Linked DNA regions of Homo sapiens: all the other regions are reported to be linked to region 6. Evidence: microRNA targets listed by miRTarBase, many of them from high-throughput screens and not tested one by one. Region 6 holds a microRNA gene; each other region holds the end of a gene's coding sequence.
Evidence for each region. The annotated mature microRNA hsa-miR-29b-3p reads UAGCACCAUUUGAAAUCAGUGUU and lies in region 6 at 3,683-3,705, shown strand. An mRNA with a match to its seed (bases 2 to 7 or 8) in the 3' UTR can be bound and repressed. Matches are read on the target gene's strand: a 7mer-m8 pairs with bases 2 to 8, a 7mer-A1 pairs with bases 2 to 7 and ends in A, and an 8mer does both.

Region 1: the mRNA of PPP1R13B is a reported target of hsa-miR-29b-3p. Seed matches in the 3' UTR shown: 7mer-m8 at 982-988.
Region 2: miRTarBase lists IFRD1 as a target of hsa-miR-29b-3p. Seed matches in the 3' UTR shown: 7mer-m8 at 1,756-1,762.
Region 3: the mRNA of AQP4 is a reported target of hsa-miR-29b-3p. Seed matches in the 3' UTR shown: 7mer-A1 at 2,276-2,282 and 7mer-A1 at 3,686-3,692.
Region 4: the mRNA of COL6A3 is a reported target of hsa-miR-29b-3p. Seed matches in the 3' UTR shown: 8mer at 4,084-4,091.
Region 5: the mRNA of DSC2 is a reported target of hsa-miR-29b-3p. Seed matches in the 3' UTR shown: 7mer-m8 at 1,328-1,334 and 7mer-m8 at 3,902-3,908.

Annotation. Positions count from the first base shown.
Region 1 is chr14:103,730,971-103,736,032 of GRCh38, reverse strand. PPP1R13B (protein phosphatase 1 regulatory subunit 13B) reads left to right here. Exons shown (of 17, transcript NM_015316.3): 16 at 1-30; 17 at 838-2,838. The coding sequence ends at 879. ZFYVE21 (zinc finger FYVE-type containing 21) reads right to left here. Exons shown (of 7, transcript NM_024071.4): 6 at 3,271-3,413; 7 at 2,369-3,050. The coding sequence ends at 3,015. Among named protein-coding and RNA genes, the nearest start is that of ZFYVE21, 18 kb to the right of the region's middle.
Region 2 is chr7:112,475,185-112,480,258 of GRCh38, forward strand. IFRD1 (interferon related developmental regulator 1) reads left to right here. Exons shown (of 12, transcript NM_001550.4): 12 at 246-2,019. The coding sequence ends at 335. Among named protein-coding and RNA genes, the nearest start is that of LSMEM1, 3.3 kb to the right of the region's middle.
Region 3 is chr18:26,851,791-26,856,864 of GRCh38, reverse strand. It overlaps AQP4 (aquaporin 4), which reads left to right. Exons shown (of 5, transcript NM_001650.7): 5 at 376-4,822. The coding sequence ends at 654. Among named protein-coding and RNA genes, the nearest start is that of AQP4-AS1, 11 kb to the left of the region's middle.
Region 4 is chr2:237,320,518-237,325,591 of GRCh38, forward strand. It overlaps COL6A3 (collagen type VI alpha 3 chain), which reads right to left. Exons shown (of 44, transcript NM_004369.4): 43 at 5,043-5,074; 44 at 3,501-4,297. The coding sequence ends at 4,257. Among named protein-coding and RNA genes, the nearest start is that of COL6A3, 91 kb to the right of the region's middle. RefSeq lists an enhancer at 3,991-5,074.
Region 5 is chr18:31,063,860-31,068,933 of GRCh38, reverse strand. It overlaps DSC2 (desmocollin 2), which reads left to right. Exons shown (of 16, transcript NM_024422.6): 15 at 1-40; 16 at 722-5,074. The coding sequence ends at 919. Among named protein-coding and RNA genes, the nearest start is that of DSC3, 24 kb to the right of the region's middle.
Region 6 is chr1:207,801,081-207,806,154 of GRCh38, reverse strand. MIR29B2 (microRNA 29b-2) reads left to right here and starts at 3,632; the gene lies at 3,632-3,712. MIR29B2CHG (MIR29B2 and MIR29C host gene) reads left to right here. Exons shown (of 6, transcript NR_135299.1): 5 at 58-150; 6 at 3,493-4,637. MIR29C (microRNA 29c) reads left to right here and starts at 4,216; the gene lies at 4,216-4,303. RefSeq lists an enhancer at 1-488.

The DNA of each region.
Region 1 (5,062 bases), not on the chromosome of region 6:
GAGGGCTATGTGCCCAAAAACCTGCTGGGGGTGAGCACTCAGGTTACTTACTGGGAAACTAGCTGCCCGTGTCTCTGTACAGCATGCGGTCCTATCCTGCTGTGGGGCTGGGGAGGGAGGCTTCGCTTCTCTGAGCCTCAGCAGCCCCCTCTGTAGAGGGGGAGGTGCCTACTTGGCAGAGCTGGCATGAGGCTCAGGCAGGGCCCCAGGAGGTTCCCCCAGCCATGCTTATGCCATGGAGGCCCGTGCGGAGGCTGAGTGCCCCAGTGAGGGGCCGCTCAATGAGCTCGGTTCATGATGAACTTCACCAAGTGGCCCGGCTCAGCCCACCCACACTTTCCCCAATCTAGAAATCTCTGCAGCCTAGAAATTTCTCCAGTGGAGGGAGAGGTGGGAACGTGCAGGCTGCTAGCTCTGTGTTGGACTTGTGATTCCCTCAGTCCTCTGGCAGAGGGAGCTGCCTCTGCTCTCTTTGTGCCCTGCAGAGCTGCCAGGGGCTTGCTGTTGAGCCAACGTTCTTGGCCAGGCAAACACAGCAGGGAGCCAGGCAGAGACCCTTGCCCAGGGGAGCTTATGACCTTGAGAGCCACAGGCAGTCACAAGTCTTTAGGTGGCATGAAGTGTTGTGAGAAAAATAGGATATTCTGGGGGTACAAGGCACATTTTAAAGAGGGCTGGGTGGGTCTCAGTGTAGAGGTGCAGCTGAGCGTAGGCCTGAGGGACAAGGGTGCTGCACGGCTGTCCAGGGTGGCTGAGGTGAGGAGCAGGGGTCGGGTCTGGCTGGCCCTGCTCCCTGTGTGTGGCTTCCTGTCCTGACGCGGCTCCGTTGCTTCCCAGCTGTATCCACGGATCAAACCCCGACAGCGAACACTCGCCTGAACTTCCTTTTGGAGCACCGCATGGTCTTGCCAGCTACCAGGAGCCACTTAAGAGATTATTGTGCTGTTTTCCAGGAAAGCTGCAGCTAGAAAATGGTCTTAATGGTGCTCACTTTAGCAGACAGCGTCCACAATGTGAATCCTACAGTTTCCAGGTGAGGCCCTTTCTCCAGTTTGCCCATTAACTGGGAGAGGTACTTTCGCCTCCAAGGACTGAATTTTGCCAATTACTATAAATCCAAATAAATACCCACTTTCAAAACACCCACCCCTCTTGCCATTAAGAAGTCCCATAACCCCCGGTTGGTTGCCAGTGAAGACAGAAGCTCTTACTGACTTGGCCCCGAGGCCATCACCCCCTCCAGCAGTGAACACTGTCCGCCGCTGTGAGGCCTGCTCCCCTGCGACCGCCCTGCCCCCCGTCACCGAATCGGACACTCATCCTTTCTCACACTTCCCACACATGATCCTTCTTCCCTTCATCACCAAAGGAGCCTCTGTATGGAAACATGTCCAGTGTTGCTGCCCAGTGTGTATGCCTCCCAGTACCCACTCTGCTCGGCCGCCTTGGGGGTTCCGCTTCCTGTTCCAGTTCACCTAAAGGCTGATTGTGCAGGCCCAGCACTGTGGCTGGACTGCCGCGCCACGGGCACCAGGACCCCTAAGACCAAGTGACAACTGGGAGAGCCTCAGCATATACTCTTCTCCTCCGATCTCACAGCCTGTCATGCTGCTCAGTGTGGTTCTCACCCCTGCAAGCTCAAATTCAGTTCCCTGAATGGAGTCAGGTGCTGGAGGCCGTGGCAGCGGAGGGTGGTTGGGGTTGGGGCTGGGGGTGGACTGGTGTGAGGGCAGACCAGGGCCAGGTAGACGGGGCTGTTTGGTGCCTGAAGGATGGCAGACGCCTGGTGTCAGGAGGGGCCGCCACCAAGGAGCAGCAGCTGGGGCAGAGGAGCTGGGGTCAGGGGCCACCCCTCTCTGCCGATCTCCCTGCCTGGGCTGGCTGTGAGGCCACCTTTGTCCCAGGCCCAGCCTCAAGGCAAGGAGGGCGCTTCACTGAGGTGTGAATTGTACGTACAGGCTTTTTATATACCAAAAGTATTTTTTGACTAGACCATTCAAAGCTACCCGAACTATGTTGGAAATTTTTTTTTTCTCATTAAAATACAGGCCCTTAGGCTCTATTTTTCATGTATGAGTCGTGTGTAATTTATGTAAAAATGTGTGTACAGACTCACTGATGCAGCACTGTAGCCCATCACCTTGGAGCACTGACTGTACATAGTGTGGTGAAGAAAAGTGAACGCCCTTGTAGAGCAGCCCGACCACAGGAGCATGGCCGCTGCCAGCCCAGACGCTGCTGACGCTGTGTAAATGTGCACAATAAACCCGTCTCACCCCGGCGGCTGTGAGTCTTCTTTCTGGACCCAGACTGCGCTGTGGCACGAGGGTTCAGGTGATCTGGACACAGGAAGGCGAGGCCTTGTCCGTATGTTCAAAATAGTTTTTAATCATAAGCTTTATATACAAATTGCTGTACAGTCATCTTAATAAAGTGAAATAGTGAGTGAAAAGTACAAAACACAAAGCCCCCACGTTCCCCTTGGTGAAGTATCAAAGGATCACTCACAGCCCAGAAGCCCCAAATTAGTGACAAGGTAAGTGGACAAGTCTGTGAAACAGGCTAAGGCAAGTGCTGTAAACTGGCTATTAGAGGCGAACAGGCTCCACTGCAGACCAGAAGCCTGAGTTCCTACTGCCCAAACTGGTTCTGTGGAAGAATTAAATGAAATGAATATTGATGGGCCAGAACCTTCTAGTAGACCTGCGAACTCATAAAAATGGTATATATTATGCTAAAAATAGTTTAGCAGTAGTGTAGCTCAGTCTCTCCCACCCCCAATTAAGTATTGACAATACACAAATTCTAAAACATGAAGCTGTTTAAAGCATTAATAAACTGTGAACATATTGCACTAGATAAGTGAACACTCCTGTTTCTCCAAATACATGAGTGAGTTGCATTTCCCAGCACAAGCAGGATTAATCCCTGTGGTACGCAAGGAGCAGGCTCTGCTGTTCCAAGCGACTCAGTCCTGGTGACCACACGTACTCCAAGCTCAGCCCCACGTAGAGTTACTGGTCCCGAGATTCATAGAGGAGCTTGGCAGCCTGCAGATCAGACAAGATCAACACAGTGAGGCCTGCTTGGTCCTGTGCCTGGTGGAGCCAAGCCTGTGTGCATTTCAGGGGAGATGGCGTGGGCACCCCAGCTGAGGGGGAACAGGTTGTGGGGATAGGGGGCAAATGGCAGGACACAGAGCTTCCTCTGGGAAAGGCAAGCTTTTGTCTAAGCCAAAGGGCCCAGCCTCCCTGGCCTGGGCTCAGGTACCTTGTGCATGGCCACTAGCCACGCCACCGCCTGCCTCCTGCCCACAGTCACGTCCTCCACCACTGTCAGCTTCAGCTGGGTCACACCCTCCGTCCCCGGCACTGTATACTGCAGGAACATGCCTGTGGCCCGTGCGTTGCCTCCTGGAGGAGAGAGACGAGGTAAGACGGCCCAAAGGAGGCCCTGAGTGCCCAGGCGGCCACCAGCCCCAAGGCGGTGGCCAGCACATCCTAACCTTGTGCTGCTCCAAGAGTAGCCTGGCAGTGAGGGCTGGTGCTCAGGAGCACCCAGGGAACACCATCTCCTCAGGCCTCTGAGGGGAGACCCCAAGCTCACAGGTGGGGTGGGAGAGGGACCAAGACACTCAGCCGGGTGCCCCAGGGCCCGGGACAAACAACAAGAGCCACATCACCACGAGAGGCCTTGCTCTCGGCTAATTGAGGCGCTGCTATGCCCTGGGGCCTGTGGGGGTTCCTGCCTTCAGAGAACCTCCAGACAAGACTGGCTCCTGCAGAGGTGCCCACCTGCACCCAGGGCTGGGGGAAGAGTGGAGGCCACCTCGAGAGTGCCCTGGCCACTGACAGGCCAAGCAGATGGTCAGGGACACAGCTGGCCTCACCCAGGAGTCAGAGGCCTCAGCCATCCCACCGTTGAGAAGCGGCGTCAGCACAGAGGGGATTGTCACTACAAAGGCCCAGTGTCAGGGAAATGCCACCCCAGCCTGGTCACGGGCCATCTCCCCAGACCCAGCACCCATGTTGGGGACTGGTCTCTGGGACCCAGGCTCCCCGTCTTTGGGCGGTGACCAGCTGTTCCAGTGACAATGACTCAATTCCAGCACTCGCTCCAACAATACACTGCTGAAGAGAGCAGCTCTTCAGTCAGGGCTGGTGTTGAAAGAGACCCATGGGATGCAGCCTCCCATGAACTTGATGACTTGGGAGGGAAGCCCCATCGTAGGCAATCACTGACCTCTCAGGAGACCCCTCCATCAGACACACATCCCCCCATCAGCACTCAGGGCCGGCTCTTCTGCCGGTTGGTGGAGTGGGCACCAAGGCTGCAGTCGGAGGCCCACCGACCGTGCTTGGAGGCCTGAGCAACCTATGACACGCTGTCCCCTGGGAGGCCCCGGAACCACATTTTTTTTTTCCGAGACGGAGTCTTTGCTCTTGTTGCCCAGGCTAGAGAGCAGTGGTGCGATCTCGGCTCTGCACCCTCCGCCTCCCGGGTTCAAGTGATTCTCCTGCCTCAGCCTCCTGAGTAGCTGGGATTACAGGCGTGTACCTCTACGCCCAGCTATTTTTTTTTTTTTTTGTATTGTTAGTAGAGACGGGGTTTCTCCATGATGGTCAGGCTGGTTTCGAACTCCCAACCTCAGGTGATCTGCCCGCCTTAACCTCCCAAAGTGCTAGGATTATAGGCATGAGCCACCGTGCCTGGCTTTATTTTAATTATTTTTTGAGTCTCTGTTGCCCAGGCTGGAGTGCAGTGGTGCCATCTCAGCTCACTGCAACCTCCGCCTCCTGGGTTCAAGCGATTCTCCTGCCTCAGCCTCCCGAGTAGCTGGGACTACAGGCACCCACCACCACACCCAGCTAATTTTTGTATTTTTAGTACAGACAGGGTTTCACCATGTTGCCCAGGCTGGTCTCGAACTCCTGACCTCAGGTGATCTGCCCGCCTCAGTCTCCCAAAGTGCTGGGGTTACAGGCGTGGGCCACCATGCCGGGCCTCTAGAACCACACTTTCATAAGCCCGGTTCTGTGGTTAGGGCACGCACCCCCACCCC
Region 2 (5,074 bases), not on the chromosome of region 6:
CCTGACCTCGTGATTCGCCCACCTCGGCCTCCCAGAGTGCTGGGATTACAGGTGTGAGCCACCTTGCATGGCCCCTGTTAACTCTTTGTTTTTCTCCTTCATTCTTTGTGTGTGTTTTATAAACATTTAAATGTTTATAGGGTCAAATTAGTTCATTTCTTTTCTTTGTGACTTTTACCCTTTTTCTGTTTTGTAAGAATATCTTAAGTCTTACTGATGCACGTTTTTCCTTTTTTTCATTTTAGCATTTATATAACTCTGCAGCCTTCAAAGCTCGAACCAAAGCTAGAAGCAAATGTCGAGATAAGAGAGCAGATGTTGGAGAATTCTTCTAGATTTTCAGAACTTGAAGACTATTTTCTAATTTCTATTTTTTTTTCTATTTCAATGTATTTAAACTCTAGACACAGTTTTTATCCTGGATTAACTTAGATAACTTTTGTAGCAGTGGTTATATTGCTTATAATTTAATGTACAATACTATTGAAACTGGTGAGTTCTGATTATTAAATATTCTCTGTAAATCAGTAAACATGTATAAAGTATTTGTAATGTTTGGTCATAATTTATTTATGAAGACAGCAAAAGACTGATTTCATGATGGGGAAAACAATTAGCCAAAGTTTAATTTCTTACACTGTGGTTGTCAAGAATACTGATTTACTATAATGATATATACATGCAAGATATTTAACTTAATATCTTAGACAAGAGTTCTGGGTACAATTTTGGGATCTAGTTCCCCTGGAAAAGCTGCTGTATTTTTAATTTTTAATGGAATGTAGCTTTTAAAATCCTGTCACTGGCATCAACAAAAGGAATTATACCATGAGACCTTATAGCTGTACTTAAAAGCCATTCAGTTCAGCTATTGGGAGTTCATGATGAATTAGCATATGCCAGAAAGGTTGCTAACCTTAACATCTGAGAGCAGTAACACTGATTTTATCTGCTGTATGAGACTTTGTGCATTTTACTTTGAAATAAAGATTTTTTTCCACACTGAAAGTGCTTCTCTTCTAATAGAAGAAATATTATTTATGGCTTTGAGGTACAGAGTCCAAAATGACTAGGCCAGGTGGGCAGGGAGACAAAGCTTTATGTGTATATTTACAAACATTAAAGTAGATGAAAAGAATGTAGCAATACATAATTGGGATTAAGGTTTCTGACTTTCAAGAATATTTCTGCTTGGCAACATGCAGTGTGGCTCATGCCTATAATCAGCACTCTGGGGAGGCTGAGGCGGGAGGATGGCATGAGCCCAGTTTGAGACCAGCCTGGGCAACATAGCGAGACCCTGTCTCTACCAGAAATTTAAAAAATGAGTGTGGTGGTGTGTGCTTCTACTCTTTATCTACTTGGGTGCTGAGGCAAGAGGGTAACTTGAGCCCAGGAGGTCAAAGCTGCAGTGAGCCGTGATTGTGCCACTCCAGCCTGGGTGACGAGTGAGACCTTGTCTCAAAAGCAAAACAAAAAAGAATATTGCTGCTTGTTTGCCCATGAGGTATATTTCTTTCATTTTATGAAAAGCATTTTGACAACACGTTAACATTTAATAAACTTTAGATTAAAATATATAGTGCAAGCAACATGCCATTTCAAATCCGTAGACTTGTTTCTTTGATACTCTTGCTGTAGGTCGCCGTGAGGGGTAGGGAAGCATATATACTGTAGGGAGAAGTATCAAAATCATTTAAGGTCTTTTTTCCAAACTAGTGTTCCCCTCCCACATCCCAACAACTCTTGGAAGTCTGGTGCTCCCTCTAGGTGAAAATCATTTGCTGGCTTATGGAGTCACTGTTGCTGAGTCCCATCCCCCAGTTACAGTGCAGTGGAAAACAGGTTTAGAATCTAGAACTTGTTTGTATGTTGTCACTTGGTTATGTTCCAAGTAGGTTAGAACCATGGAAAAGAGATTGCAAATGGTAGTTTCTTCTAGATATTCAAATGCATATATGTATGTACATGTAATTATAAATAAATAATGAATTTTTATTAAAGTGTTGTATGAACATAGGTTTTTGTTTGTTTTTGAGACAGTCTCCCTCTGTTGCGCAGGCTGGGGTGCAGTAGCGCAATCTTGGCTCACTGTAACCTCTGCCTTCAGGGTCCAAACGATTCTCCTGCCTCAGCCTCCTGAGTTGCTGGGATTACAGGTGTGTTCCACCACACCTGGCTAATTTATATTTTTAGTTGTGATGGGGTTTCACCATGTTGGCCAGGCTGGTCTTGAACTCCTGACCTCAAGTGATCTGCCCGCCTTGGTCTCCCAAAGTGTTGGGATTACAGGCATGAGCCACCGTGCCCAGCCTGAACATAGTTTAATGGTACTTCAAGGCTAATAAGGAAAGCCCCTTGCTCCATCCTTTCCTATTCCTCAGTCCCATCCCAAGAGACATTCAGCCTTCAGTTTTTTCTAGCTCGGTTCTTTCAGCCTTCAGTTTTTGGTTTTAGGTTTCTAAATAATATGATTATACAGCCATTTATTTTTTAGGTGTTTGTCAACTTACTATTAAGACAGGTGAAAATTTCTTTTATTGTTTCACATCCTTCTAATATTATTTTGGTTAGATCATGTACCTGTTTGCATAGCTGTGATCATACTTGTATGTTCACTCGTGAATTAATTTAATGTGCTTACATTTTCATTCTCATACAACGTTTTGTCTTGGAGTTAATGCTCTTTTTTTTGGCTTTTTATGCACATCATTGATTCTTCCCAAACAGTCCCAAATAAATTTGTCACAACTTTTCTTGATTCTGTACTTGTTTCAATCTAGACTAGTTTCTCTCATCCAATTGTATAGCAGTTTTCCTGAGACAGCACTATCGTGAGGATTTGTTTTTCTTTCTCTTGAATTGTATCCCTCATTTTCTGGATCCCATGTCTTAATTTACTTCTTTGTTAACATGGAGCACTTCTTTCAGTAGTTTCTTGGGAATGAGTGCGTGAGAGATCAGTCAGTTATTTAGTGACTTCATATTTCTGAAAGATAGTTTGCATGGAAATTCTAGGTGGAAAATCAAATTTGGAATTTTTGAAAATTTTGACAAGTGTATTCAAATTCAGAATTTTGAAGGCATTGCTCTATTCTAATTTGCAAAATCTTGAGATATCTGATGCAGTTTTTATTTTTATTTCTTTGTTTTCTCAGCATCTCTGTTTCTAGTGTTCTAAAATTGCATGATACTGTGCTTTGGTGGGATTGGCAACCTGGAAAATATTAAGTTCTTCATCTCTTCTCTTCCTCCTCATTTTCTTTGTTCTGGAACTCTATGACATAGTGGAGCTCCCAAATTGAATCTTGGGCCTTATTTATTTTTTTTTTTTCTGTCTGGGATATTTCTCTAAGACAATTTTCCAATTTGTATTGCATTTTGTTTTTGGCTAGCATTAAATTACTTGCCTCTGTGTAGCTCCATGCCACACTCTTGCCTCTAAATCCTAGGCCTGCCTGAATTCTGCAGGATCAGTCCTACTGTCACTCATCTGTGATAGCCCTGCTAAGGCAGATACCACTCTTCTTACCATGTTCAATACATTTATTGAGCTCTTCAGTATTGTTTCTTCCTATTTTAATTTTTCTGGTTTTGTAATTTGTACTCCTGCTTTTTTACTGGGCTTTTGGGAGGAAGAAGGTATAGAGTGTTAATCTGCATGTTGAATTTATATGCAGGTGACTTTATTCATGAAACTTGTGGTAACTGCTAGACAAGGGTGGCTGGGTGTTCAATGTGTAAGAATGCTTGTGTTTTCTTGAAAGTAGAAAAATGTTGTGTTATAGACTAGTTGTTCATTGCTTGATTCTTGATTAATTTTGCCCGCTTTCATTATTTTGAGGCTCAAGCATTTTGAAGTATTCATTGTCTGTGACTCCTCTTTGATGGGTACTAAATTTCCTGGGAGTGAATTTAGATACCCTGAGATGTAATATATGAAAGAAAAAGCAAATACTTGAGAATGTCCCTAGATTAGACACTTCATGTGAGAATATCTCTTTTTGTGACCCAAAACTCTTTTTTTTTCTTTTGAGATGAAGTTTCGTTTTTGTTGCCCAGGCTGGAGTCCAATGGTATAATCTGCCTCAGCCTCCTGAGTTGCTGGGATTACATGCATGTGCCACCACACCCGGCTAATTTTGTATTTTTAGTAGAGATGGGGTTTCTCCTTGTTGGTCAGGCTGGTCTCGAACTTCCGACCTCAGTTAATCTGCCTGTCTCGGCCTCCCAAAGTGCTGGGAATACAGGCATGAGCCACCGCACTCGGCCCCAAAACTCTTCTTAAAGGTGGTCTTGCAGGTATGTTATAGTTAAAATGAAGTAGGTTGTCTTGCTTTGTTCTTAAGTGGCTTTCCAGAAGTCTAACTGGTCTAAAGGCAGTCTTATCCCCCTCACTGGTGTATAGTTCAATTCAGACTTGAATGCGAGGTATGGGTTTACATCTCATCTCTGCCACTTATAATCAGTGTATCCCTCAACAATTAAATTCCTTAGTCTCCATTTCCTTCCTCCTTCAGGGGAAGTTAATATTCCACAAAGTTAGAAGTTACAGGAGAGGAAAAGTAGTAAACGCCCCAAAATGAGGCAGTTACTTCTATTATATCTTCAAAGGATACATGGCTCAAGGCAGATCAGGTAGTTGGGAGATTTCTTAAAAACAGCATAATAGCTAACATGAACATTTTCATTATTCAGAGAAATTTGACATAGCTTTTTAACGTATGTTTCTGAGAAAAGTTACTAGTTATATTGTCTTCCTCCAAGAATTAGTCTTTGGGTACAGATGAGGCTTGAAAAAATGACATTCCCTCTTAGACTAGGTAGTGTGAAGGGAAAAAAAAAATGACATTCCTCTTCCCCCAAAGCAGAGTGAGGTCCGTATGGGATATAGGTGTAAAGAAAATTTTGGGCCGGGCATGGTGGCTCAAGTTTGTAATCCCAGCACTTTGGGAGGCCGAGGTGGGTGGATCACTTGAGGTCAGGAGTTCAAGACTAGCCTGACCAACATGGTGAAACCCCATCTCTACTAAAAATAAAGAAATTAGCCAGCTATGGTGGCACATACCTGTAA
Region 3 (5,074 bases), not on the chromosome of region 6:
AAATAAGAGAAGGACTCTCCAGAAATTTTTTTTTTATTTTAGTTAAAGAATTCTTAGTGCGCTTAATTTGTAGTACCACCAAAGAGGATCTATCTTTACATTAACGATTATCATAAGATGGAAAGAACATAATTAATGAAAAGAGGATAGGAGATGAAACAGTTCTTTTTGTTTTCTGTTCAAATGCAGTTTAATAATTTATGGATCTCTGATGAGGCTTTGGTGTGTTTTCTTATTTCCTCTCCAATTCCCCTCTTTTTGATGCATGACACAAATACACTCTTAATTTAACCCAGCTAGATTCTACATTCATGAGCTGCTCAATGGAATAGCTTTTCTCTACTTACACTCTATCCTCTTCCATCTTTTCCTTAGATATATTGGGTTGGGCCCATCATAGGAGCTGTCCTCGCTGGTGGCCTTTATGAGTATGTCTTCTGTCCAGATGTTGAATTCAAACGTCGTTTTAAAGAAGCCTTCAGCAAAGCTGCCCAGCAAACAAAAGGAAGCTACATGGAGGTGGAGGACAACAGGAGTCAGGTAGAGACGGATGACCTGATTCTAAAACCTGGAGTGGTGCATGTGATTGACGTTGACCGGGGAGAGGAGAAGAAGGGGAAAGACCAATCTGGAGAGGTATTGTCTTCAGTATGACTAGAAGATCGCACTGAAAGCAGACAAGACTCCTTAGAACTGTCCTCAGATTTCCTTCCACCCATTAAGGAAACAGATTTGTTATAAATTAGAAATGTGCAGGTTTGTTGTTTCATGTCATATTACTCAGTCTAAACAATAAATATTTCATAATTTACAAAGGAGGAACGGAAGAAACCTATTGTGAATTCCAAATCTAAAAAAAGAAATATTTTTAAAATGTTCTTAAGCAAATATATACCTATTTTATCTAGTTACCTTTCATTAACAACCAATTTTAACCGTGTGTCAAGATTTGGTTAAGTCTTGCCTGACAGAACTCAAAGACACGTCTATCAGCTTATTCCTTCTCTACTGGAATATTGGTATAGTCAATTCTTATTTGAATATTTATTCTATTAAACTGAGTTTAACAATGGCAAAATACAGTATGTCACAGTCATGCACATTCAAGAGAGAAAATATAACAAGTTCTTTTATGAGCAATCCCTTATGCATAGACTACCTTGGCAAAAGAGCATTAGCAAGTGTCACTGCTCATCAGTTACTTCCTTCCATTTATATCACAAATACCCAAGTTTCAATTCTAACTTCATTTCATGGTATTTCTTCCTCCTCAATGCCCAAGGTAATGTGGGACTAAAGCCCAGAAATTTGAAAAGAATATTCAGAAATCCTTCCCAAATCATAAGGGCACCTATTGAGATTCAAGACAAGCAGACTCGTAAAATCTTGTAGAGGCAGAGGCAAAGTTATCATCATACAAAAATCACAAACAAAAAGGAGATCTGTATTCGGGTATCAAACGGTTGATCTGTTTTCAGTGCACACCCTCAAATGCACCACACCAGTTTTACGATCTAAGCTTTTAACCCCTTTACCACTTTGCTTATTTTTAAAAAATTTATTGGCAAAACTGGGGATTTTGTTTGTAACTTTGGTTATCTATATTTAAACATTAGCTGAGACATATTTTTGATAACAAGAACTTAGCTAGTTGAGTCCTGGCTTTTTGTTGATTATTAAGCTGTGTTCACTCTAGAAGGTGTAAAGGCCCTGTCCCAATCTCTGCTCTCTCACTTCTCGTGACATTTGTTGATAATCTTTACTGCAAGTGTAATGATATTTGAGTGAATTAAAATGCATGACAGACAAGGTACAACATGGTTGCAGAATAAAAGGGTGAGGACATCAGATCACTCTGTATTCAAAGCTTACTAGACGAACAATCTTTCATTTCTGGATATATTGTAGCTAACCCAACACATTTTTAAACTATTTTTGTTACTGACTCACTTACTTGTCAAAATAATTGGTTTTTCTGTCCTGCTTTGCCTTTTGTCACTAGAATGTTCTCCAGAAACCCCAGTTTCTGTCATCTTAACTGTCTAGTCTAGCCGTTAACTTAGACAAAGAAGTGCAAATGTCAATTTCACTAAACAAAAGCTATTAGAAGTAAAGCAGAAACCTATCACTGCAAGGAGTGACTTGTAAATAACTGATGATCAAGGGCTGTCTTCTCTCAAGCATGGTTCCAACTCTGTGTCACTTTTTAGCGTTAATGGCAGTTGTGTGTCTGTGGCAGTGAGATAATGGACCACTATTAAACCTGATTCTCTTCGGTGCTAGGAAAGAGTGATGTGTGAGATTCCCAGAGAGTCGTCACACCAGTGTTATGCCTGGGAGTGCCACTGGCATACCGCAGGTGCCTAAATCCCAGGCCCCTTTCTCAGGGGGCGTGGCCACACCACACACTGCGCCAGTGACACATAGTTACTTCCTGGCTGGGACGGCACCTATAGAAACTAGGGTACAAATCTCCCAAAGATGGTTTGCACCGTCATTTCAAATGTTTGCACAATATACCACTTAGAGGCTTAAAATCAGGGTGGTTCAGTTCAAAAGGTAATATCAACCGTCAGCAAACATGTCAGTTTAAAAATAAGTTCGGTTAACAAGGAAGTGTTAAGCAGATTTTTTGAATACACTTACAATATACTGGCTTATAATCATTTTTATTCTGCCATATGGTTTATTTCATATACACTCACTTTTACACTCACTTCCAATTATAGCATTCAATAAGTTACGGTTAAAGAAAAGTGAATGGTGTTTTTGTAATTTGTTTTCTAGTAGCTAGCAGAGAGCCTGGCACATAGTATGTATTCAAAACAAGTGTGTTAATTAATAAAAATATATAAATCTCATTTGAGATTTAAGAATATAAATAATTTTCTTTTAATCTTTATTTTGCTCAATATTTAATAGGAAGTATGATTTCAAGGACTACTAAAGGAAGGCAATATACATGTGAAAACCATAAAATACATTTTTTGCATTCTACTATTTTTAGGGGCATGAAATGAATGAAAGCTTTAGCACTTTTTTGCCCCTACATATGAGACAACATATTTTGTATTTCACTCAAGGCTCTGCCAGTAAAAAGTAATGAAATTGTACCTTTCTAATGACATCTATGCAGCAGGGGTCTATCGCCTTGTGGATGGCACCAAATTATCCAAGTGTATTAGGAGACTGGGGCTTTTTTCTTTAATCCCTTCTTATTAATGAAGTGCATAGTGCTGCTCCCAGGAGACCACTGCTGACAGATACACAGAGAAGAGATCAGAGAGGAAAAACTGGGAAGACATAAATGAATTATACCCAGCCATGAAACAATGCCAACTGTCTCTTCCCTAAGGAAGAGTACAAGTACCCTAAAATTGAAAGGTGGTCCCTACACTGAAAACGCACATAGTTTGTCAAAAGTGTACAAAAGGGAAAGAGTCTTATTTTAAGCTTTCAGGCTTTCTTAAAAACTTGGGGACCAGAATTTCAATGTATGTTTCCATTGTTGAAGATAACATTTTCTTCAAAGAGCCTTAACCTTTTGTACTGGAAGGAAATATTTTCTGGACTTAAGTAGTTGCCTAAATTTAAGATTCCTACACTTTATTTCTGCCATTGATGCTTTTCCTAAACCCTTATACTATCTTTTTATTATCTGAGCCTTTTCCTAATGCAGCTCATAGGTGCTAGCTAGAGCTGCTGCTCAGTATTGAAGACTTTACAAGGAGATTAGAAATCTTTGGAAAACATATGTGATGAAATTGAGCTATATGATTTATCAGAGATCTGATTCCAAAGAGCACAGAATACTGTTCTCAGACCATGAAACCAGACAACACATGTATTGGTTTAAACTCGATAATGACAGGAAAATTCCAAACTAGAGCAGTAAATTCAAATGGTAAGATGAATCCTAGAAGGCCTCTGATTGCAGCATGTTGACACCAACCTCACGTTACGAACAATTCACAGAGAATTTGCCTTTGTGGCAACTGAAGATGGAAGTCTGGGGGGCACAGACAACCTTATCAAACAATATAAAAGCCAATATAAATTCTCATAAGCACTATAGAATTTGCAAATTCAGAACATTTTATACCTAAAAGTAATTCTGTCTTTCCTAAAGTGTTTTTAACATGAAAATTAGTAGGAAGATGTGGTTACTATTTGGAAAGTGTAATGTAACAAAACTCTCTTTTGTTACCACAAATTTTGTGAGTTTAGTACTCTACAGATTGCCCCATAAGAGCAGTAGCTTTTGAAACTCATAATTCTCTGAAATAAATGAAAGACATTTAATTCAAGGATCAAAAATTGTGGCCATCTTTGCAAATGACTACCTATAGCCTGTGAAAATACATTTCAAAAAATGTTATGTGCAATGAACACTAAATTTAAGAGCAGTTACAGTGTGACTCACTCATGTTTAAAAAAAATCGAAGAGCTAAAAAATACGTCTAATTTATGTAACCCATTGGAATGTATTTCTAGGTTCTCTTCAGGATTAATTAAATAAACATGCAATTTATGAAAACATATAAACAATTATTTATCACTTTTATGACCCAAATCACAATAAAATTGTCATTTAGGATAAACTGGGGAGAATAGACTGAACATATGGTTATATTCACAGTTATTTATTAACTTAAATGTTATTCCAACATTAGAGCTAATGTTAAAAAGATTTAAACTGTAACGTCTAATATTTGGAATAATATATTAAAGTATTAGCACTGTGGTTGATTTTCTTGAATTATGTTGCATCTTGTACTACTAAGCTTGTGAAAATAAACATTTGGATGTTTTAAAAGGTAAACATTATGTTTGATGAAGTTAAAAATTCATTTGTAGTTAGATCTTAAGTTCATCCTTTAGAATGATCAGCAGGTTTAGATATTTGAGTATAATCAACACCAAAGGAAATGGTGGTAAGCCCATGAAATCAAATGCATTTTTTGAAAGCCTGCAGAGTATACACCATGGGATGCCCTGATAGAGATAGTGAAAATTGTGTTTGTACAGGCTTAATTCAAAATGTCCGCATCTATGCAAAATAAACCATTGGTTA
Region 4 (5,074 bases), not on the chromosome of region 6:
TGGTGTCACCATCATGCACAGAGGCCCTTGAATCACTGGCCTTTTCCCATCACTCATGACCAAATGCCTTCAAGCTTTGACTACTAGATTCCAAAATACTACTTCTTTGGTGTTTTGGTCTTTAGCAGATTTATACCCACCATAAAGTTGGGTGGAAGACTAGGGAATACCACGGAAAAGGATTTCTGAACTGGCTCTGCATGGGATCTCAGGAATGCTGAGGGGTGGCCCAAAGCTGGAGAGCATGATTCCAAGAAAGCAGGAAGACCCCAGGAATCCCATGGCTCTTACAGCAGCTCACCATCAGTATTCATCTCCCAGGGAAGGGGAGGCACAGGCAGCGGCAAAGCTCAGACCCAAACTAAACCGAGGAGGGGTATGGCAGAGGGCAGCCTCTGGACTGGGCCCCCTGGCCTGGCAGTGTCAGCAGTCCCCAACTTCTCCGGAAGCCACACCCAGATAGGTGGAACCCTGAGAGCCTGGCTCATGAAGAGCAGCTAGGTCCAGCTGGAAATCTGACAACAATGGAAATTTGGCAGGAAAATACGAACCATCTCCTAAAAATGAACCACCATGGGGAAAGAAATTTAAAATGGTTCTTGAGGGTTCAAAACATTGGCTTTCTACAAAAAGCCTGGCACCCATTCATAAGTGCTGTGATTTCTTTTTAATTATGCAGAAAATCGTTGAGGGAATGAAAGTATAAAGCACTTGTATTTAAAAATCCAGCAAAGCTGCTGTTGAAAGGATTGAGATGTGCTCACAGTTGAGCACAAATAGACGTCCTCGTGACTCGGCCTTGGAGCCCAGGCAGGCCATACTCAGCCCAGGCCACCTTCTGCGCAAGCCCTCAATGCGTGCCAGAGCCCCCAGCTTCTCCAAGTTCTTTCCTAAGCCAGAGCAGCTCAGGATAATGAGAAGAGATGGAAAAGACTACAATGAAAGGAAGGAGAAGGATAGAGACTTGCTGTCTGAGAAAGAGTGACGGAAGGTCTTGGGGAGGGTCATGTGGAGGGCATGCTTTGTTCTGGGAAAAGACACATGGCTTAGATCTGACTTCCAGAGAAAGAGCCAGAAACATCTAGAGAATGGCAGTGAGCGTCCCACAGGAGCCAACCTTGGAACTCTGAGAGGGCTTCTGGGTCACCATAACTTGCCCAGATCCTCCATTAGAACATAGCTGGGTGAAAAGGACCACTCTGACCCTCTGTTTCATCATCTTTAAAACTGGAACAATGACCGCTACTGAACGGCACCACCTAAGATGTGTGTGAAACACCTAGTACAGCACCTGACCCACAAAGGCTTCTGGATAAAGGTGCGCTGTGTTCGTTACGGTCACACCAGCTGCTAGAACAGCCCAAGACCTCAGTCTCTTACTTCAATAGAAGTTTATTTCTTAGTCACAAAATCCAAAACAGGTTTTCTTTATTGGCAGGCCACCTTCCACGGGCCAGGCTGGAGGCTTCCCCAGAGAGAGCTGAGTGGATATGAGGGTCAGGGACATGTCAGGGTTCAAGAAAGGACACAGAGTCCTTGGCATAGTCTGGCAGAAGAATGTCTTGGGAAGAGAAATCCACGAGCTGTCAAGGGGTCAGGAATCCTGCAGCTCAGATCATGTTTTGCTGAACCCTAAGTTAGGACAGACAATGTAACAAAGGATTTTGTTTTATTTGCTCTGTGGGAATAAATGGGAGAAACTGCCCATCCACCACCTGAGCACCTTGCCTTACCCTAAGTTAGCAGCACACACAGCTTAACCAGCCACTCACCTGGACTTACATCACTTCCTGCTTCTCCTGAGTCAGGTGAGATGGTGGGTGTGATTGTCCCAGCAACCTTGAGCAGCCAAGGGACACACACAGAGAAGCAATGCATAGATAGAGTGAACCAAGAATGGCAGGGATGGGCATGCTGGCAACAGGAGGTGGAAAGGGAGAGAGGGTTCTGGAGCCCTTGGAAGTGAGTCTCCTAGTGATGGGCCCTGCCCCAGTCTATTGTAACACACCTTGAGCAGACCATCTAGGTATGTTACAAATATTGGTGTCCTACTCCTGTACCTTGGGCCTGACTACTCCCCCAAGTTCCACATGGGAGTATCTGCAGGTCTTTGCCAAGAACATTTTCTTACACTACAGAAGGCCCCTTTGCCAGTGTGCCTGCAAGCCAAGAGGACCAGAGCATGAATGCCTCAGTGACCCGTGGAAACAGGTGTATGACTACCCAAACTCCTTCAGCCCTCTGCTGGCCTACGAGGTGCAGTGCCACAGGTGCACCTCCCAGGGTTTCCCCGAGGGATTGGGCTCTGGGCACCCACAGTGGACGCTGACTATACACCTCTTAACAGTGCTCTCCCTTTGCTTGTCTCACTCCCCACTTCTCAGCCACTCAGTGACTTCCTTCACCTCCCAAATAAACTACTCACACCCATATCCTTAGTCCTAAGGGCTGCTTCCGGAGGAACCCAAAAAGTAAAACCAGATTGTGATGCTCATTTTAGGTCCATAGCAGATCAAGTCAATGGGGGTGGCGGGGGCAGGGATCCCTTGGGAAGTGGAGCACTCAGCCCACCGCTATGGGAGCTGGGCCCACAGCTCTCTGCTCCGCAAGTTCCTGCAAGAGGCTGGTGTTGGGTGCCTGGCAGATCCCAGGGTTGGTCACCAAGGGTCACAGCTCAGAGCACACTGACCTGAGCACCCCATGGTAGCTGCCGAGATAGAAGAGGACTGGGGAGGAGGTCATGGCGACCTTGTGGGGACTAAGTGGCGCTTCTGAAGAGGGCCACACTCCTCTCTCCTTTCCCAATAGACCAACTGGCAAATTCATCCCGATTTTACATAAAACATTTCTGCTGACACCCAAGATTCCTGTAATTCTACCCTCAGCACTTGTCAGGACATATGTATTTTATCCAATAAGTTGTTTCCTTTGTAAGTGGAACTCAAGTGCCACCTGAATATGTATTTGTTGGTTTCTTGTATTATTTCTGAAGAGAGAAAAAAACAGTCTTTAAGAAAAACAAAAAAATGAAAGACCTTGTGCTTTGAGACTCCAGAAAAGGGGTTGGGGGTCGTGGGGCAACACTGAATCTCTCAGCCATTGTGAGAGGAAGCAAATCAACCCCCTGGGAAAGGATCACTGTGGAGAGGAAGACAGGAGGAGGCTGAGGCTCTGAGGGCCAACCAAGAGTCAGAGGAAAAGATAGAAGCCAGCCTGACTCTGAAAATCAGAAACACTGCCGGGACCCAACAGCAGGAACACCTTCCGCTCGGCCATGGAGCACTGGAGCATGTGGGGCTGAATCCACAAAGCGGGGGATGCTTGTCTCCAGCCGGTCTCTTTGCACACTGGCTGATAAAGCTCTTTTGCCTCCTCCACTGGAAACGAAAGGCTGTTGCACAGCTCCATGGGGCCAGAACCAAACCCAGTTTCCCCAGCCTAGGGGTGATTCTGACAATCGCTGCTATGGAAACAAGACTGCCAAGAACGTCACACCCAGGAAACTTTCAATATACTTTATTAAAAAGTTTCTTTGTATAAATTTCCTAAACATTTTAAAATTAAAATTAAATCCCCTCCCTCCAGCACACACAAAAAAAAAACACACAACATTAGAGGAATGCCAAAAATATTCTCTATTACAACTTTTTTAAATTCTTTAATTAAGGCATTGGTCCCAACGGTGCACATAGATTAAGGGATTTTGCTTCCTTCTGAACTAGATCATTTGTTAGAGGCTTCAGAAAAAGAAAATTAGCTTGAAATCTAGTCTGGGAAATTGGGGGCAGGGAATGAAAAAGTTGGTCTCTTGTTTCTCCACGATACACAGGCTTCCCATCTAAAGTCATGCTTAACTAAAAGGGAAAAAAAATGAACCAAGCAAAAGTATATAGAGTAGCCGTGACATTTGCATTATTTTCTAGACTTTACATTTGCCTGCAACAGGCATAACATGAAACTCCAGAGGGAATTTGGATTGATAGGAATGTTCACATAAACACCAGCAGTGGCTAACTGTTACACAACATTCAAAGTATTCGAGAGAACTGCCTGGAGACAGAGAGCGAGGGTCCACAGACACATTAGCACCATACTGATAGGTCATGCAGCAGGATGTTCCCTCCCGAGTTCGAGTGTAAATCAAAGCATGAAATGATACAGTGCAAGGGAATCTACACCCGGAGCTTCTACAGAGACAAGTTGGCGATGGCTGACTCCTTCTTCTTCAAGAGGTATATGATGTTGGCCACCCACGCTTAGGTTCCCATCACACTGATGACTCCGGGTTTGGCGAGCACTGAGCGTCGAGAGAGGGGGTGGGTGGGGTGAGGTGAGGAGCCGAGAGAAGAGAGGAAAAGCCACATTACTGACCCAAAAGGGCACTGTCATTATCATGACACAGTCCCGCAGCCTCTGGTTTCCATCACCTGTCCCACTTTTCTACTCAGTACCATCAAAGGCCCTCTGTGACGTTCTTGGCCTGGGGCCCCGGGGCCCAGGGATGTCTGGGAAATCTGATCCCATTCTTTTGCCCTGCACCATCTACCAGGCCTTTATACGAACTGAACTCTCCCCATTCTGGCACTGACCCCAGGCTCTGTTCAAAGTGTTTATTTTATTACCAGTTGAACTGCACAATATAATGGAGATACTGGATGGCCCCAGTGACAACATTGTTATTTATAGGAAGCAAAACTATTTAAAAGATAAATTTGTGGGGGTTGTTTATCTTTGGCGTTATCTGTAGTTGTTCATTATATTATCTTCCCAGGAATCATTTTTGGTGCAATATTTTACAAATAACAGCAACTTAGTAACATTTCTGAAGAATGACAAGGGACAATATGTTTTTAGAAACCCAAAATAGGAATTCAAAAAGACATTTCATGGGTTGTATTTGAACGTCTTCCTTATCTGAGGATACACTTTATCTTCTTTTTCACATGTATCATAATCATTGCACTTCTAATATTTTTCAAGGTGACTTATTGACCTGAATCTCTTATTTGCAGAAGCCATAAACACAAGGAAGAATCACTTACCAGGAGCGCAAACCTTTTCACATTCTTTCTGT
Region 5 (5,074 bases), not on the chromosome of region 6:
CTCGGAGTGGCACAGTTTTACTCAGCCCCGTCTTGGTGAAGTGAGTTTTCCTAAGTGGCCTACAAATCTATTTTAATTTTCTTTAAACTTTATAAATAACTAACTGGATTCTGACTATAATTTTCAATTAATTATGAATCTACTAATTCTACTAATTGAAAGCTATTATTTTTCCTCAATTTTAATTTAGTTATGTTCAGATTTAAGTGGTTATTTACTTCCCCTCCTATTTTTTTAATTGAAAGAATTACTAAATAATGTGTGATGAGATTTAAATTACTGTCTCATGGCTTTGTGCTAATATTTCCCATCTGACAACTTGTACCTTAGAAACCAAAAATGTGGTACCAGCAAGACCAGCATGTACTATCACTATGTCTATCTGGGAAGAACTGAGCCCATATCAATTTGTCTTCAGTTTAATGGATGCATGTCACTTTCAGCTAAAATTTTGAAAGGGAAAGTAGTGACTATGTAAAATGAACACCTGTATACTTGCTGCCACATGCGTGACTTTTAGAAACATGCTATACTGAATTTATAGTGTGATGTATGAAACAGACCAATCATGTGCATTTTTTATGTATAGGAATCCATTAGAGGACACACTCTGATTAAAAATTAAACAATGAAAGGTAAATCAAAGCAATTACTTTTATGTTAGTAAATTTTGGTGTTTAAAATAATAATAATAAAAACGTTGTGTTTTTCCCCTTGGCAGAAAGTGTATCTGTGTAATCAAGATGAAAATCACAAGCATGCCCAAGACTATGTCCTGACATATAACTATGAAGGAAGAGGATCGGTGGCTGGGTCTGTAGGTTGTTGCAGTGAACGACAAGAAGAAGATGGGCTTGAATTTTTGGATAATTTGGAGCCCAAATTTAGGACACTAGCAGAAGCATGCATGAAGAGATGAGTGTGTTCTAATAAGTCTCTGAAAGCCAGTGGCTTTATGACTTTTAAAAAAAATTACAAACCAAGAATTTTTTAAAGCAGAAGATGCTATTTGTGGGGGTTTTTCTCTCATTATTTGGATGGAATCTCTTTGGTCAAATGCACATTTACAGAGAGACACTATAAACAAGTACACAAATTTTTCAATTTTTACATATTTTTAAATTACTTATCTTCTATCCAAGGAGGTCTACAGAGAAATTAAAGTCTGCCTTATTTGTTACATTTGGGTATAATGACAACAGCCAATTTATAGTGCAATAAAATGTAATTAATTCAAGTCCTTATTATAGACTATTTGAAGCACAACCTAATGGAAAATTGTAGAGACCTTGCTTTAACATTATCTCCAGTTAATTAAGTGTTCATGTGGTGCTTGGAAACTGTTGTTTTCCTGAACATCTAAAGTGTGTAGACTGCATTCTTGCTATTATTTTATTCTTGTAATGTGACCTTTTCACTGTGCAAAGGGAGATTTCTAGCCAGGCATTGACTATTACAATTTCATTTTGGTGGAGTTTAGTTTTAGGTTTTATTGTATATAAAATCCTGCACTGAATCTGTGTCTCCTCTGTTACCTACTTTTGCCAGTGAAATTTAAGTTTTAAAATACTTTCAGAATGTATTTTTACTACTGCAAGTTTTTGGTCTTTAAAATGTCAAGTAGCATCTCTCTCTTTCTCTCTGTCTCTTTCTGTTTCTCTCTCCAGTTTTTTTTTTTTTTTTAATTTCCATATGGGCTAAAGAATCCAAATATTTTAAAAATCTGTCTCTCTTTTCTTCTCTCATAAAGTGAATTATTCCTTTTTTTTGTTTTATGTAAGTGTATATATTCTTAGTTTTTCTTGAAATCATTGTAATGTTAACTTTGTTGTTTCAAATATCTTGGTGATTGCTTCATTATCTCTTCAACAAAAAAAACCTTTAATTTTGCCATTGAAACTGTAGAACTATGCCATGCTTTTATTAGAAGCAGTGCTCTGTGTTAACAACAAGAATGGTGTAATTAGAATTGGGATGTGGATATTTACTGTATGACAACACATTTACAGTTCTGTAATGCAAGGATGCAGTTTAAAAATGTGAAGTAGTGATGGTTTTTGAAATAAGCTTTAAAATATAGGGATCTTGAAGGCTCCCTGGGGTAACTATTTTATAACTTAGATAAAATGGCTAGTCATATCTGTGTGTTTGTAAAGTTATTTTTTTAATATTTTAAGATTACAATTTTAACAAATGTAGAAATGAGCCAAACTATTTAAATTTTAAAACAGTAAAACAAAATGAAACTTAATAGCTCACAAAATTCCAGTCCATGTTTCATGACTTATTTTAGTCAATGAATTTTCTATTTATACTAAACATATGGACATTTTAAATGTGTTTCTAATATTTTTGATTATCTATAATGTGCCTGTCTTCAATTCACAAGATTGGGTTATAACAATTATTTGCCAGATTAACACTAGGGAATTATTTGATAACCAGCTTATCTTATCAGTAGTTTTATTGCTGATCAGGCAAAAATAGTTTTCCAAAGTTATTTTTAATAAAGTATATACAAAATTCTTATATATTACTAGTCATGATAAAGTAAATTAAGCAGTTTTTAAAACTTAGTGTGAGTTTGTTCATCACAGGTCTGATATGAGTTTAAGGGATTTCGCACTCCCTGAATCAGAGAAGTAAGACCCCTTCCTTAGATTCCTGTTATACATTTTTTAAAATGTAGAGTTTGTTTTGGAGACATTTTCAGTGCATTGTTATTGCCATATTTATATAATATGACTATTCTAAAGGCTGTGAGGCCATGGGGTATTGGTTAAGTTGCTTGCTTTTGCTTTGTCCATTTTCATCATTTTAAAATGGGGGATAATAACAGAACTTGTTTCCTAGGGCCATTGTAAGTCACTTGAATAAAAAATAGTTTTGAAGCATGAGAGTCATACAGAGCGGTCCACCTAAAAGGCACTCCTGATAATAATAAATGATTTTAAACAAGTCACATGTACAATTCATTTCATGTTAACAAAAGGTCAATTAAGACAATAAGATACTGAAAAGATTTTTCTTTTCACTGTAGAACATGTCTCTTCATAATGATCACCTGATGACTGGGTCTTGTATGTTCAGTTTTTCAGAATACGTAGTGCAAAGATTGCTGAGGCATTCGTATGGGATTGCCTGGTTTGAAACACTGTGAAACTGTAAGGTTCAAATTGGATGAAAAGCAGAACATCTGCTTCTTAAAATGGGCACTAATTCTAACACCCTATGAAAATTATGTGTATTTTAGATTCTCCCTGTCAATCCCTTCCTTGGCTTCTTCCCTAGCTGTCCAGCTAGACATTAGCAGTCACTTGCCTGGGAGGTCATGGCTGTTTGGCAGTCGTCATAGTAACCCCAAGTGCTAAGACTTCCAAGTAAGAGTGTCTTGATGCAAATTCCGGCTCTATCCTTACTAGCTGTGGGATTTGAGAAGTCACTTAAGCTTTCTGTGCTTAGTTTCCTTACTTATAGGACCTGTACTGAGGAGGGTAGAGGAGTCTACTTGACAGGGCTTTGTCAGAGTTAATTCATGAAAAGAGTTGGCATAGAGTTAGCACTCAATCATGTACCTTAGCCACTGCTATTGTTCTATGAGCAGAGAACGCCTGAGTTGGGAACAATTTAGCTTCAGTCTCCACTCTGCTTTACTGCTGACATCTTGCCATGATGCTCTTATTCACCTTTCCCAGAAGCCCGACCAGTATTTCACCAGTGATGGCCTTTGGGAATTTCATGGCTCATAGTAGCTTCCAGGTCTCTCATTTGTGGTATTCAGCAAGTTACATCTTATTCATCCCTAGCCAGAAGTCAGTGTGATAAATCTTGATGCTTAACTGAAAAGGCAGGTAAAATTCTCGAGGAGGCAAAATCATAAAGAGTTTCCCGAAGAAATGGCTGGTGCTTCTTCAGCAAATGAAAAGCAGCAAGATCTTCTGTTCCATGCAGTGTGTGTCTGGGGGCTCCTGGTAATCATTACTTTTTCTTTATTCCCATCTTAAGACTGTTTTTATCTTGGATCCCAATTCTGTTTTGCCAAATCTGACTTTGACTACGGGCTTCCCTTTTGTCTCCATCTCCATTCCTGGACTCCAGATTGAAGTCTTGACAACTGACTTTGCTCTGATCAGCCCCTTTAGTATCATCTCCAAAATAAAATGCTTTCCCTTCTTTGTGCCTAGAATCATCTTGTTTTTCACCTCCTTAAATATTCAAAGCCCTAAGAAGTTACCTGATATCCGTATAAACCTACAGCTCTTATATCAGCTCCCCTGCGAGCCCCCTGTTAACCTAGCACTTCAAACTCATGCAAAAAGACAAACACATACTACCACATCAAATCAGGTTCTCCTGAGTTATTTACACAATGGTGCCCTTCTTCCACTTACTTAGGCTTGAAACAGAGAATCCTTGATTCCTCTCTCTTCTTTCCATAGCATCCTCTATTTTTTGCCAAAAACTGCCAAACTTTTGAGAATTGTAGACACAATTTCATTCATTAAATACTTTGTTTGTACTGTAGTCATTTGATGCCTTCCCAGTGCAGTCATATGTAGCCTTTTAAAACAGAGACTAGAAGGACTGTGCTTCTATGAGAAAGTGCAAGATGAATCAGCCACTCTCCCCACCCACACACTTGAATGCAAGTCAAGACACGGTGGATGTAAGGAGTGGGCTAATGCCTGTAAAACACATCACACAATGCCTGGCACATAGTAAGTGCATAATGCATGTTTTTAAAAAGCTTCAGATGATGTGAAAGAACTTCAGGACACTAGTGAGTGAACTTCTGCTTCTGCTACTCCCAATCCAAGCATTCATGAGGTTGAGGTGTACCCTATGTCAGCTGTTCCCACTCTTCACTTCATTCCTGATCAATATTCCCCCCCGCCAGTACCCCAGATTAAATCTTCAGCATCACTCAGCTCCAATGGTGTTTATGCTTCCAATTTCTTCCCTCTTCTCTTTTTTCAAGGGCCATCAAAGAGCAGATATGATCATGCCATTCTGCCTAAGAGCTTTCTATAGGGTTTTAGAGGATAAATTCTAAACACAAAATCACTTTTAAATA
Region 6 (5,074 bases):
CAAAAGAGCCTTCCCCAGGCCCCTCTCTCACCAAGATGAGCTCTTCCTTGCTGCCAGGAGCCCTGAAATCAGCATTCCCAGAGGAAAGAAGATGGCCATCTGGGCTTGGCTTCCGGCTCCCCCCATCTGGCTGGAACACACATCAGTCACGTAAGTAGCTGTGACTCAGCACCCAGCACTGCCTTGGCAGAACCTTCCCACGTTCTGGATTTGCACACACTGTGGTAGCGCAGCACAAGCAAGCAGGGTTAGGTAACTGGGGACCAGTGTCTGTTTGTTCAGTGGGTTTGCCTATGGATTTCAGAAAGAAGGATTCCCTCACCTTCCCATTTTCCTCCCATGTTATTTTTTAGGTACCATGCTAGGCTTTAAAGACAAAGCATCATTTATAGAATGAAGTAGAAGCTGTCTTTGCAGTCTCCAAACTATTTTTAACCAACAGCCTATAGATGGTATTTAACCCTCAGGTGTGTTTGGCCTGCACGGGTTTTTGTTTTTGTTTGAGACAGGGTTTCACTCTGTAGCCCAGGCTGGAGTGCAGTGGCACGATATCAGCTTGCTGCAACCTCTGCCTCCCGGGCTCGAGCAGTTCTCATGCCTCAGCCTCCTGAGTAGCTGGGACTACAGGTGCCACCACACCTGGCTAGGGTTATTTTAATGTATCTGATTTTGCATGCATTTAGACAAAATATGGCCTCTCCAGTTCACTGTATTTCTGCTGCATGCTGTTGCTGCTTCTCTGTCTCAGGTTTCCTGCCCAAGCCCTCCGAGCATTTGAATGTGCTGTGAGCAGCCTACCTCAGCCTCCTCTCTTTACACATGAAGACACTGAGGCCCATTCAGGGCAAGTGGCAGGTCCCTGTTCTCAGAGTTGGGGCCAAGCAGGTATTAAAACCATTGTGTTCTGATTCACTGTGTGCCCAAGCAGATTAATGCCCTGGTGTGAGGTCGAGAAGCCTCCAGGTAGAATGTGGGGACAGAAGTGGACCAGGCTAGAGTATAGCTCCCACACCTTTCCCATGCGTGGCAGCACTCGTAAGACTGACATGCCCACCCTTCTGGATGGGTGGTTTTCCTCCCCAGACAGCCCTGCCAACCCTTTCACCTTCAGCCAGTTTGTTTGGAGTCATTAGGCTGAGGTGGGTAAAACCCATCACCCTCCTTGGATGGCAGAGCTCTCAGCAGGCTGGGATTTTCATGGGCTGCCTTCTTACAGGTCTAGGTGGCCTTCAGGCATGGTGCCAGGGAAAGCAAGCCCCTTCCAGCCCTTACCAAACTAACTGGCTGCTTCCTAGTAGGGAACAGCCACCAGCTTGTTTCAGCGAAGAGTCATTGCTCAGCTGATTCTGAGAGGAGAAAACTGGTTCTGTTGGGAGGGCTGAGACCTGAAGGACCCCTTTTATCCAGTGGAATTGGAAAGGCAAAGGATTTCAATACTAACATGATTTTTTTCTCCACTTCTTTTAGAGTGTTTAATTAAAGTGATGCATTGTTAATGGCTTCTTATCTCTTCTTCCAGAGAGTAAAGAGTTAAATTTTAGAATCCAGGAGTGGGGACCCAGACTGTGGCTTCTGTTAACTCCCTCAGTGGCAGTGGCGTCCTGCTATGCACAGCCCCTCTGCTGTACTCCGAATGGTCCCTTACGGGTAGCAGGAGAGACATTAAATAATCACACTGATGACCAAGTGAGATAAGTGGTTTTTGAAGGAAAGAACTTGAGGCTGGCGAGGACCACTTAACCTTCTAGCAAGGGCTGGACTCAGGGAGGCTTTCCTGAGCTGCGGGGAGGATGACAGGTTCCCTGGAGTGGTGGTGGGTGGGGGCGGGGCTGAGGGGTGGTAGCCAAGGGAGGGTGAAGGAGAGTATTCCAGAAGAGACAACAGCTTAGGCAGGCAGGACCTCGCCATGGAGGAAGGTGCTTTCTGATCACTGCGGGACACCTGTGTGATAGCTCATAGGGAGGGGGTACTGGTAACTAAAAGTTGATAAGGAAGAGTGGCTAAAATGAAAAGCAGAAAAGTGAGAATCTCATCAAATCCCCTCATTTGACAGGATTTGGACTCCCAGTAGTAACTGTCCTTAAACACTCACTCCTGACCTTACAACCCTGGCTGTTACCTGGTTAACAAGCCCCAGGTGTTGGCTACAGGTGTCATCACTGAGAGCCCTTGTGTGCAGATCTGCCCCAGCTCTCCCACCTGTGACTGAGGCTAGCAAGTCCCCCGTGGGCTGTAGAGCCTAGCGCTGGTGTCAGAATCGCTTGTTGCAGGTTCATCTTCAGTGTCTTTCCCACAGCCACATGCTGGGGAAAGACGGCAAAGGCGCTAGAGGAGCAGGAGAACAAAGCAAGCTGCCCCAGACCACCCGGCTTTCGCAGAACCCAGATGATGCTCCTGTCTCCCCCTAAGTATAACGTGTTATGTAGTCAGTATGATCCCATTCAGTGCAGAAGTATCGCCTAGGAATTTCCTGCCCCACCCACCCTGTTTTGTTCTTAATGAAGTTCAAGAACAAAATGAGATGATAGTCAAGTTATGGAGCAGGCTGCAGTGGATACAAGGGCAGAAACACAGTCTTTGGAGTTAGACCTGGGATCTGCATTGATTGGTTGTGTGACTGCAGACAAGTTATTTAGCCTCATTAAGGATGAATTTCTTCGCAAAAATTGGAATAATACCTGCCCCATACGACTGTTGTGAGAATTAAACACCGCAACTTTTGATGTTCAAATTCTATTTCTTCTCCTTCTAGCAACACATACTGTTAGTGCCAGGAACCATAAAAATTATAAGGCTGTATCTAGAGGCCTGAAAGGAAGCTAAAATATACAGTGTCTACTCTGTCTCTTTTCTCTTGGTTATGGTATCAGAGGAAATACACATATTTTCTTAGCTTCAAACCACCAAAAAAGATGATGCAGTAAGGAGATGGGAAATCTAATTTGGAATACAGTGTGCAAATCTTATTTTCAAGCAGACTTTGAAAATAAAACTCAATTCTTACGTTAGAGGATTATCTGCTTAATACAATTATAGGGTACCAGTTTTTGAAGTCACATCGGGGTTAAATAAGATTGCAGGTTCATGGGGTCATATTTGAATGTTCTGATACTTACATATGGGGTGGGAAGGAGGAATGCATGCTTTTCTCAAGTTAAGACACATAAAAGAGTTGTCCTGGCCCAGGTGAGACTCGCCTTTGTGTAGCAGCTGGAGCTTCATTCCACAGGCAGATAGGGTGCTTGTGTCCTGATGAAGTAAGAGAATATATCTGGAAACACTTTGTGTACTGTGAAATACTATACAAATGCAGGGCAGTACAAATGTAAATATTAATGTATTTTAGTAATAATTTTAGCTTTTATTTCATCATATATAATAATTTGTAGTGACTGGTGTGAAGTTAAATAGAATTAACCTAGAATTAATGAGTTTTGTATTGCTCTCATCTATTTGAAGCATCAGCTGTGCCTTTCATGTTGCCTTGTGCAGCCCTGTGTAACCTCCTCTGTGCCTTTCCCATGGAGCACTGTGTCATATCACAAGTAGAACTACAAGAAGATATTTCTCCTCAGGGCAGAGGCTGGGTCTTCCGATTGAATCTCCCTTCTTTCTTCATTGAGATCCTCTTCTTCTGGAAGCTGGTTTCACATGGTGGCTTAGATTTTTCCATCTTTGTATCTAGCACCATTTGAAATCAGTGTTTTAGGAGTAAGAATTGCAGCACAGCCAAGGGTGGACTGCAGAGGAACTGCTGCTCATGGAACTGGCTCCTCTCCTCTTGCCACTTGAGTCTGTTCGAGAAGTCCAGGGAAGAACTTGAAGAGCAAAATACACTCTTGAGTTTGTTGGGTTTTGGGAGAGGTGACAGTAGAGAAGGGGGTTGTGTTTAAAATAAACACAGTGGCTTGAGCAGGGGCAGAGGTTGTGATGCTATTTCTGTTGACTCCTAGCAGCCATCACCAGCATGAATGTGTTCGTAGGGCCTTTGAGTGTGGCGATTGTCATATTCTGTTGGATAACAATGTATTGGGTGTCGATTGTCATGGGGCAGGGGAGAGGGCAGTACACCTGGAGGACCATTTTGTCCACATCGACACCATCAGTCTGCTCTTAGAGGATGCCCTGGAGTATTCGGCGTTGATTGCGGGGCACCCGAAATCAGACTTGCCACCTGGACTGTCGAGGTGCAGACCCTGGGAGCACCACTGGCCCATCTCTTACACAGGCTGACCGATTTCTCCTGGTGTTCAGAGTCTGTTTTTGTCTAGCACCATTTGAAATCGGTTATGATGTAGGGGGAAAAGCAGCAGCCTCGAAGCCTCATGCCAACTCTGGGCAGCAGCAGCCTGTGGTTTCCTGGAAGATGGATGGGCAGAGAATAGGGAAGGAAGATCATGCTTTTCCCTACTAACTTCTGTAACTGCATGTATGATACATTATTGCAGAGGTAAGAGATAGTTTAATGGATTTTTAAAAACAAATTACTATAATTTATCTGATGTTCTCTAGTTGCATTTTGCTGAAATGTAGTGCTGTTCTAAATTCTGTAAATTGATTGCTGTTGAATTATCTTTCTGTTGAGAAGAGTCTATTCATGCATCCTGACCTTAATAAATACTATGTTCAGTTTATCATGTCTGTGTTTTTCATCTATTATTTCCCATTCATAATTCTGTGATGATAAGAAGTGGGTCCTGAAAAATTAATTGGCTGTGCAGATCTTGCCTACTTCATAAAGAATTTGAAGTAGGTTACAGCCAGCCAGACATTAAAAATGAAGCCCATTAAGAGAAGAATGAAATTCTATGAGCCAAGAAATAAAATGAGAGAAAAGATTAGGGAAGAGAAGAAATGTTGAAGATCAAGGCTGAGGGATGCTCCCTACTGAATGGGAAAACTCCTTAGTTCCACATGGGCTGTAGACACAGCCCTTCTGCCAGCAACTGTTCCTGCAAGGAACTGGTGCTCAACTAAACATACTGTCACATGGTTCCTTGAAGGGGCACAGCACTGATTTCACTTGCATTATAAAAGATTGAGTGGTGCTTTTGACTATTAGTTTATGTCAACA